Linked DNA regions of Homo sapiens: region 2 is linked to region 1. Evidence: fine-mapped expression QTL. A gene starts in region 1. The other region holds a variant in brackets. All regions are shown on one strand. Distances are from middle to middle.

What was found. PIP is the estimated chance that this variant, and not a neighbour inherited with it, causes the effect. A credible set is the group of variants that fine-mapping cannot tell apart.
Region 2: its variant is the best candidate, but not a certain one, in a credible set for the expression of EID1 in whole blood (TOPMed, PIP 0.70).

The regions. Positions count from the first base shown.
Region 1 is chr15:48,874,948-48,880,333 of GRCh38, forward strand. It overlaps EID1 (EP300 interacting inhibitor of differentiation 1), which reads left to right and starts at 3,187. Exons shown (of 1, transcript NM_014335.3): 1 at 3,187-5,226. The coding sequence starts at 3,230. The coding sequence ends at 3,793. All of the region lies in intron 4 of SHC4 (SHC adaptor protein 4), which reads right to left. RefSeq lists enhancers at 2,762-2,871, 3,142-3,441.
Region 2 is chr15:48,896,250-48,901,635 of GRCh38, forward strand. All of the region lies in intron 2 of SHC4 (SHC adaptor protein 4), which reads right to left. Among named protein-coding and RNA genes, the nearest start is that of EID1, 21 kb to the left of the region's middle. The variant A/G (reference allele first, on the strand shown) is at 2,294.

The DNA.
Region 1 (5,386 bases):
GGTCACAGTTTTGGTAAGCCCATAAGCTAACCCTAGCCAAAATGAGTAAAAAACAAACTTCACTGGAGAGGTTCTTTGAAAAGGGGGAAAGATCCAGTGATGAGACTGCAGAAGACTTTAAGACTGCCAACAAAAATAAAGCTGCATTTAAAAGAAAATATCAAGAGTCCTACTTAAAATACCAGTTCATTACAACAGGTGATTCACATTATCCAAGCTTGCTTTGCATAACATGTAGCAAGTGGCTATCTAACAAAGCCATGAAGCCTTCTAAACTGCTTTGTCACATGGAGACCACACACCCTGCATTAATACTAAGCCTTTGGAGTTTTTCAAAAGAAAACAATGTGAACACAAAGAATAGAAGAAATTATTGAAGGCCACCACTTCATCAGATGTGTTTGCACTGAGAGCATCATTCTTAGTGGCTAACCACATTGCTAAAGCTAAGAAGTCCTTTACTATTGATGAAGAGTTGATCCTGCCTGCTTCTAAGGACATTTGTCATGAACTTTCAGGAGAGGCTGCAGTTCAAAAGGTGGCATGTGTTCCTCTTTTGGCTAGCACCACAACTAGATGAACTGATGAAATATCAGAGGATAATGAGGCACAATTGTTAGAAAGGAACAATGCTTTTTTGTGTGTGATATATTTTGCAGGAGGATGTGAATGAGGATATGCTATATGCACTTTTGTTGCCAACCAGCACCACAGATGCAGAACTATTCAAGTCTTTGAATGATTACATATCAGGAAAGTGGAATCAGTCATTTTGCATCGGTATATGCATGGGTGGAGCAGCTGCCATGACTGGATGGCATTTTGGTTTCACTACTCAGGTCAAAGAGGTCGCTTCTGAATGTGAGTCTATGCACCATGTCATCCATAGAGAAATGATGGCTAGTCAGAAAATGTCACCTGAACTTAACAACATTTTGCAGTATGTGATTAAAATTATCAACCATATTATACATGCCCTTAACTCACATCTGTTTGTGCAGCTCTGTGAGGAGATGGATGCAGAGCACACACGTCTTCTCTTACACACAGAAGTGAGATGGCTTTCTAAAGGTAGATCACTGGCCAGAGTTTTTGAGTTAAGAGAGCTGCTTCAGAGATTTCTTTGTAGAAAAACAGTCACCATTGGCGGCACATTTCAGTGACACAGAATGGGTCACAAAAAAACTTGCTTACTTGTGTGACATATTCAACCTGCTCAGTGAACTCTGTCACTTCAGGGACGAACAACAACTGTGTTCAACTTGGCAGATAAGGTGGCTGCATTCAAAGCCAAACTGGAATCATGCGGGTGACAAATGAACACTGGGATTTCTGACATTTCAAACATTAGCAGAGATTTTGAAAGAGACTGAGCCAGGGTCTTCTTTCTCCCAGCTGGTGCATGATCACCTATCTCAGCTTTCAAAATATTTTGAGCATTACTTCCTGTATTAGTCATGGTTCTCTAGAAGCACAGAACTAATGGAATATATACATATATATATACACACACACACACACGTATATACACATACACACATACATATACACATATATATGTATATATATGTAAAGGGGAGTTCACTAAGTATTAACTCACATGATCACAAGGTCCTACAATAGGCTGTCTGCAGGCTAAGGAGAGAGGAGAGCCAGTCCGAGTTCTGAAACTGAAGAACTTGGGAATCCAATGTTCGAGGGCAGGAAGCATCCAACACAGGAGAAAGATTTAGGCTGGGAGGCTAGGCCAGTCTCTCTTTTCACATTTTTCTGCCTGCTTATATTCTAGCCAAGCTGGCAGCTGATTAGATTGTGCCCAACCAGATTAAGGGTGGGTCTGCCTTTCGCAGCCCACTGACTCAAATGTTAATCTCCTTTGGCAACACCCTCACAGACACACCAATGATCAATACTTGTATCCTTCAATCCAATCAAGTTGACACTCAGTATTAACCATCACACTTCTCATCCACAAAAGACGGAATGGATCTGTGACCCATTTGTGAATAAGCCAGGTGAATCCACTTTGTCCACGCTAGAAGAGGATCAACTGCTTGATATTGCAAATGACGGTGGCCTTAAAAGTATGTTTGAGACAACTTCAAATCTCCATACGTTCTCGATTAAAGTCAAGGCGGAACATCCTGAGATTGCCACAAAAGTACTGAAAAGCCTCCTTCCATTTTCAACATCCTATCTTTGTGAGGCAGGATTTTCCACAGTAACAGCAACCAAAATGAGATTACAGAATAGACCGGACATAAGGAACACACCTCGGGTGTCACTGTGTCTCATCACCCCCAGATGGGACCATCTAGTTGCAGGAAAACAAGCTCAGGGCTCCCATTGATTCTACATTATGGTGAGTTGTATAATTCTACATAACTATAATGTAATAATAATAGAAATAAAGTGCAGAATAAATGAAATGTGCTTGAATCCTGTAAGTATACACAGTCATATAATTCATATAAGTATATACAACTTAAAACCTGAGGCTTTTAAGTTGAAGGTAAAAACAGGTAAAACATGTTTTTAAAAAACACACAAAATAGTATTTTGCTGTCAATACATAAAGATACATGTAAATGCAAATAAAAAGAATTCAAAGAATACACACCGCATTGCTAATAGTGGAAAGATACCTCCCAGGCGAAAAGAAATGGGACCAAGTATTTCTTCACTATAACTAAAAAAAAAAAAAGTACAATATATCTGTTGTTTGTGAATTTAACTTTTTAAATGAAAACACTAAAAGGACAAAATGGATTAGTTCTTAATATGCTGATCTGTGGTTATGGATGTTGTCTGGTTTGGAGACGTGGATTTACAAGTCATCAGTACATCGGTAAATTGCCCAGGGGAAGAGGAAGGGGGGGAAGGAGCATTAAATGTTACGAAGGCCATGTAAGGTTATTTTCCGGTTTGCAGCATTACAAGCAGCAGTAGGGTTAAGTAACACAGAAACTGTTACGCTCTTGCATGCAGGGTCCCTAGATACGAAGTTCGAATCGATGGAAACGTAGCTCAAAAGGCGACGCCAACACCCCGGAGAAAACACTGAGCTACTCCAACCACAGTGGCGCGCCAAGTAGGAGGCGGTACCTGAGGACCACGCCTGCGCGCGGGGTTACGCAAGCGCGCAGCCTTTGCGCACGCGCACGAACGCACGGCCGCGCAGCATCTGTCTTGCTGGAAGCTTTTTCCTAGAGGTTGAGCGGTTTGCACAATGTCGGAAATGGCTGAGTTGTCCGAGCTGTATGAAGAGAGCAGTGACCTGCAGATGGATGTGATGCCTGGCGAGGGTGACCTTCCGCAGATGGAGGTAGGCAGCGGGAGCCGGGAGCTATCCCTGCGTCCCTCCCGCAGCGGGGCCCAACAGCTCGAGGAGGAAGGCCCAATGGAGGAGGAGGAGGCCCAGCCAATGGCGGCGCCAGAGGGGAAACGGAGCCTTGCTAACGGGCCCAACGCTGGGGAGCAGCCAGGCCAGGTGGCGGGCGCAGACTTCGAGAGCGAGGACGAGGGCGAGGAATTTGATGACTGGGAGGACGACTACGACTATCCCGAAGAGGAGCAGCTCAGTGGTGCCGGCTACAGAGTATCAGCCGCTCTTGAAGAAGCCGACAAGATGTTTCTGAGAACAAGAGAACCAGCCCTGGATGGCGGGTTTCAGATGCATTATGAGAAGACCCCGTTTGATCAGTTAGCTTTTATCGAAGAGCTTTTTTCACTGATGGTTGTCAATCGTCTGACCGAAGAACTCGGCTGTGATGAGATTATTGATAGAGAGTAGTTAGATGCTGTTAAAAGAGGAGGAAACTACTTGAGGAGGGACCCAACTTTCCGCTATCTTTTGGGTTCATTCCAAATAGTTTTGTGCCATTGAAAAACTTGACCTTCAAAAAAATTTGTTTTTCAGAATAGAACACAATAGGACAGTGACTGCACAGTTGTGAAAAAGGAAGAGAATCATTAAAGAAAAAGAAAAAAGATTTTAAGACCGTTGAAATCAATTATCAAGAACGTCCTAAAACACCTATGGCTTTGACTTTGTTATTGATCCAGATTATTTTCCTTGCATTGGGGAAAATATCTTTCATATTTGTTTGCTGTAAAGATGGTTTTGCAAGAATAAGTCATGACCAAGACAAACTGCCAATACAAAAGCCCACTGATACTAATTATATAATGAGAAAAAAATGTATCCAACTAGGACACATATCTTTTGAGTTATTTGGACTGAAAGCTTAAGAAAACTTGGAAAATTCTATTTTGTGATCTAGTCAAGCCACAGTTATCAAAGGCTACATTTTCAGTGTAAGATAAATGGATGAGTAAACTCAAATATGTATCACGTGTGCTTTGTATCTTAAGATGTGTTTCCAAGAGCATCTGAAATTTTGTTTGTACATGTATCTTGATCATTTATAAAGCCACTGTGATCTATAAATCAAGAAAATCCATTGTCATAACCATTTTTAAAAGTCAAAAATTAAGACATCCTTAATTAAAAAGTTTCAAATCTAGACACTAAATGTGTGTGAATGTACAAAGAAAACAAACCATTGCTTATGCTGTTATATACTAGAGAAATTTTGTTTTGCTTGCTGTTTTAACTTGACAGATGAAGGACTTTAGTTGAACTTCATATTGTAAGAACTGTTAATAAAAGTTGTCAAGTAAAAAGCGCTATATCTAAAAAGACTTTATGAACAGTTATTCTATCAACTTTTAAAGGTTTTAAACCTGCCCAGAAATTACCTTGGTATCTGAAGTTTCCCTCTGTCTCCTCCTCTAATTAAGCTTGTTATTTGTCATGCACCAGCATTGGAGATAATAAAATTTCTTGTTCTGTGTATTTTGTTTGGCTAATAGTATTGCATACATACTTTCTCTGTATACTACTTTCTATTGTATGTGTTAACCAGTATTAAGGGAAAATGATCCAGCTTCAGCTATCTAATTCACAAATTAATTTCTGGAAATTAAACTTTGTAAATTAAGTTTTTGCCTATAAGAATTTGCTGGTCTGGGAAAACCTGCCCTATCAATGAGTATGTTGCCGTGGTTACCTTACTAAGATGCTGAAGTTCTAGGAGAGTAATGATTACATCAGAAGGCTAGGTTCAGCAAAATAAGTGTATCAGCAGGTTTTATCATGATCAGTAAAAATGTTCCAAATGCTTCTGCTCCATTATAGCAGTAAAGAACGAATATCCAATGCAACAGGACAATTCAGAGCCTTATTTATTTTATGGTCATCCTGTCTTTTGGGGAGAGAGATCTGTAAAAGATAGGACTGTGACAAGGCTGATCAGAATTGCTCAGACACTAGCTGGGTTAGGAGGGAGAGATGGTGGAAGTAAAATGTTGGTGCTTAGACTTA
Region 2 (5,386 bases), 21 kb after region 1:
CTCTCTCTCTCCCTCCCTCTCCCTCTCTCTCTCTCTCTCTCCCTCCCTCTCCCTCTCTCTCTCTTTCTTTTCTTTCTTTTTTTTTTTTTGAGACGGAGTCTCACTCTGTCGGCCAGGCTGGAGTTCAATGGCATGATCTCAGCTCACTGCAACCTCCGCCTCTAGGGTTCAAGCGATTCTCCTGCCTCAGCCTCCCAAGTAGCTGGAATTACAGGTGCCTGCCACCATGCCCGGCTAATTTTTGTATTTTTAGTAGAGATGGGATTTCGCCACATTGGCCAGGCTGGTCTCAAACTCCTGACCTCAGGTGATCTGCCCGCCTGGCCTTTCAAAGTGCTGGGATTACAGACATGAGCCACCGCGCCCAGCCTGTACAAACTTTTCTATTCCATTTAAGAAGGTCCACTCCTCACCCCAAAGCTCCCCAAAACATTCTGTGGACCTCTTAGAAATTACAGATCCCAGGTTAAGAAATACTGCTTTAAATTAACCTCTCAAATTCTGCTGGCCTTGCTGATAGCAGCGTTAACAAATCTCCTGAAATCCCAGCAAGGACAGGCAGATAGATGCCTACATTTTGTTGCTTTTGTTCACAAAGATCTTTTCTTCCCCTGCTACTGGGACCAAGACATTAACTGTAACATTTTCAAGAACAAATAGTACTTTCAGTGCTTTTCTGGAGTCTCAGCCACACCCTTGGGCCAACTTTACAAATGCCGAGGAGAAAGAAAAAGAAAACAGAGTTGAGAGCGATTTCTCCTGGGGCTCAGGGGGTCCCCGCCATTCTTGCAGCCCAAGCAGCTGCGCTCCTGCAGAACCTTTTTGGAGCTGAGTGGCGGTGAGACTTTCTCCAGCTAGCAAACATTCAGCAAGTGTCTGCTCTTAGAGGAGCAGAAATTTTGGGGTTTCAGTGGCTAAAGATTTCCATCCTGGGAGCCTGTATTAGAAAGAAAGAGAAACGCCCCAGAGCACCAACAGTGGCCACTTTGTTTATTGTTTCGCCACATGAGAGAGAAGGGGAGAAGTGGGCTGATGTAAGAGAATGAGAATGCCGTGGAAGATTTGCTTTTAAGCATATAAAACCCTGCCTACGCCATAAGACCAAAAAAAGATATTTTGTCTGTCTTAACAGAGTCCAAACTAATCATCCAAACAAAGCCACCTTTCTTCATCAACTCCTGGCCACTACAACACTTAAGTTATAATTCTTCTGTGTTTTTAACCCTTAAACAGTTAAGCTCCTCTGGAAGCAATGTCGCCACACACACACACACACACACACACGCACACACTTTTTTTTTTTTTAAGTTTGGAAGGCAATATCACAATCCAAGACAAAGGGGAGCATTTAATGGGAGGAGAGGCTGCGCGGCAGATTTTTTCTGGTGAATGTCAAGATGCAGTTCTTCAGTAAATAGGAAAGCCAGAAAATGTGCAACATGAAACCAGGCAAAGGGGCCCAGCTGGAATGATTAAAGGCAATGATCCCCACATCCCCCACCTTCTGACACACACACACACACACACACACACACATCTATAGTCACATATGCAGTGAAGGAGTAGTTCCAGTTTTGTCCCTGCAAATAGGAATGAGAATAAAATTTTAATCACAGCAAGAGCCTTTCCAAAATAAAAAGTCAACGATACTCAGCCAAAACAAATTCACCTGCGTTTCCCAAAGGTCTTTCTTTCACTTTGCATCTCCAACGTAAGTCCTTAAAGAAATCAGTTAACAAAGTCTAAGGGACATGTTGCACCCTAAATGTCTTGGATTGCCTTCTTATTATGAATGAAGAGACTGAGTAATTCAGACTGCACATCCATGTGGTATCATGCTGTTCTCATTGTTCTAGGGAAACCAGTACCATCTTTTTTTAAATCTTTGCCTCCAGGACAGCAAGGCTCAGTGATCTATGTGTTCAATTTTGTCCAGCTTAGTGAAATTAAAGACATCCAAGAATTTGTGAAAGCCCTCAGACAGGACACTTTAGAACAGGAACCTGCCTCTGTGGCGATAAGCACACAATGAACGCAGTCAGTGCCCACAGACCAGTTGAAAATGGAAAGCCTCAGACTTGCTTTGTGCTATTATCAAGGGGCATCACCCGTGTACTCTAGGAGGGTGAACTCAGCCTCATAAAATACATCCTTTCACTTTAGAAACAGGCACCTCGGGTCCCAGGATGGTCAAATAAAACCTTTGAGTACTGCCCACAGCATTTATCCCCACACTGACTTAGTGTCCCACTCTGTTCACCTGAATTGTACTTAAAGTCTGTTTCTAAAGTAC[A/G]TTTGCTAGCCAACCCAGCTCAGCAACCATAGGAAATGGGTTTGTCTGTCTACTTCGTGATTCTGCCCTTTGGCTCTGATGCAAATGTGAACCCATTAATCACACTGGAATGAAGTGAAGGACCCTCTTGTCTGGAGTATCACATCTCCCCTATAACTCTCACTAGTTAACGGACATTAAGTGCTGGTTTTTTCCTGTCCCCACAGAGATTTCCTGTAATACAATCATGTATCTCAAAATTCAAACACCTACACCCACAAACTGATGGCTTATAGGCTTTATAAGTGGTTAAAGAAATGACAATAAGAAATAGAGTTGGTTTCATATAAAATACATGGGAATTTATAAATTCAAAAGATTGTTCTCCTTTAGGGTAAACTGGGCTTCTTTAAAACAACTTTGTTTTTGACAAAATATTCAAAATATTATGAAGGTGTGTCTTTTGGAGTTAAAGAGTGCACTGATGCATAATGTGGTCACTTAAAAGCCAAAGCTCATTTAGAAAAAAAAAAAAAAAAAACCGAAAACAGGTCTTACTTAGTCACCCACTTTATTCACTCAAGCTCACTCTAAGCAATGTATATCTACTTCCAAAAATTCTTCAGAGAATACTTGGAATTTTAAAGATATTTAAAACAGTTTGGCCAGGTGTGGTGGCTCACACCTGTAATCTTTGTACTTTGGGAGGCCAAGGTAGGCGGATCACTTGAGGTCAAGAGTTTGAGACCAGCCTGGCCAACATCGTGAAACCCCATCTCTAGTAAAAATACAAAAATTAGCTGGGCATGGTGGTGCACATCTGTAATCCCAGCTATTAGGGAGGCTGAGGCAGGAGAATTGCTTGAACCGGGAGGTGGAGGTTGCAGTGAGCCAAGATTGTGCCATTGCACTACAACCTGGGTGACAGAGCAACCCTCCGTCTCAATAAATAAATAAATGAATAAATAAATAAACAAACAGTAAAACAGTTTGTCATACAGGTGTCTATATTACTGAGCAAGACAGCAATTGGTGTAATGAATATATTACTTCTACCACTGTTTTTTTTTTTAAATAACTCTGGTTCTTTTAAAGGCTATTTGGCAAATATGTTGTAAATTTTTTTGGGAATTCCATTTTTTTAAATGTGTGTGCACCTCTGGAAGGAACGAACAACTGGCCTACCAAGTTAATCCACCTTGACAAATAATAGTAGGACAACTTCAGCTTGCACATCCACAGAGAGTACACCATTTAGGTAAGTGGTGATCAAACTGTAAAGTTCTTAAGAATCAACTGGGTGCTGGTTAAAATACAGATTTCTAGGACTGTTCCTAGAGGTTTTGATTCTGAGGTGAGGCCTAGGAATCTACAGCTTAACAAACCTTCCAAGTGATTCTGACACAGAGTTCATGAACCACACAGCTGATTAAACCTACTTGGACTCGTTGCATTGAGTAACAGGTTCTGTGCTCTATAGCTTAGACCAGATGGTTGTGTTAGTGCGTGTTAAGGAATGAGGTCACCTCTTCCTAGAGGCTAGGCTAGGGAAGGTTACACTGTCTATACGTTTGATGATATTCCGTTCTGGGGAATTTTGTTTTCAATGTAGTCACTCTATATTCTGGGATAGATATTTGGTATAATCCTCTCTTCTCCTCTCTGCCTCCCCCATTCTCATCTCCTAAAGAAGAAGGGCTTTATGGCTGGGCGCAGTGGCTCACACCTGTAATCCCAGCACTTTGGAAGGGCTAGGTGGGAGGATGACCTGAGGTCAGGAGTTCAAGACCAGCCTGGCCAACATAGTGAAACCCCATCTCTACTAAAAATACAAAAGTAGCCGGAAGTGGTGGTGGGCACCTGTAGTCCTAGCTACTTGGGAGGCTGAGGCAGGAGAATCTCTTGAACCTGGGAGGTGGAGGTTGCAGTAAGCTGAGATCGTGCTACTGCACTCCTGCCTGGGCTACAGAGTGAGATTCCAACTCAAAAAAAAAAAAAGAAAAAAAGAAGAAGAAGAAGGGCTTTTACCAGAGGGCACATGGAGGTCCTGAACATCTTTGCTTACATCACCCTTTGCACACACAAGCAGTGAGAGAGTGGCCTGCATTCTCTCTCTTATCTGGAGGCAGCAAGGTCATCCTGGAGGCAGCAAGATCTAATCTATTTGCCCCTAAAATGCATTCAACACTCTAGGCAGTGGTTCTCAGCCTTGGCTGCACATTGGACTACACCACCAAGAATTTTACGAAGTTCTGAAGACTGGGTCTCAGCTCCAGAGATTCTGAATTAATTGGTGCCGGACAGGGCTTGGGGGTCAGAAGTTTTAAGATCTCTTCCAAATGCTTCCAACAAGGCTAAGGTTGAGAATCACTCTAGCAGCAGTTGGCAAACTTTTTCTGAAAAGGGCCAGGTAGGAAATATTTTAGCCTTTGCAGGTTATATAGTTTCTGTTACAGCTACTCAATTCTGCTGTTGTAGCTAGAAAAACAGCCATAGGCAATCCATAAACAAATGGATGTGCTTGTGTGCCAGTAACACTTATGGACACTGAAATTTGAATTCCATATGATTTTCATGTGTCACAAAATATTCTTTTGGGGTGTTTTTTCCAACCATTTAAAAATTGTCAAAACCATTCTTGGCTGACAAGGTGGCAAAATCGAAATCAGGTAGCAGGTGGGATTTGGCCTGCAGGCTGTTGTTCTCTGACTCTTGCTCTAAAGCAAACCGGAAACAAATGTAAGAGGCTTTGGGGTCGTGGTCAGTTATTAGCTTGTGCATGGTGCAAAGCTTATTAGAGTGTAATCTTTTGCAAGGATTGTTTATACATATTTTGAACTTTGTCTTGTTCGGTTTCTTGGTACAGGAAGTTGGGTATTATAAGAAAGGGGTCTTTCCCTATGTCAGTATAAGAATTATGGGACTCCCTTTACGCTGTAAATTATTGTTTTTCCATTCTTTTATTCTAACAGCACTCAGTAGAGGCAGATGGAAACAAATTATTTTTTCCTTTTAATTATCATCTAACCTTCATTAAGTGATACTATGTACATGAAACAGTGCAAAGTGTTTGGGCAAGCAATACAGAAATAAACAAAAGTGCAAAATTATAGT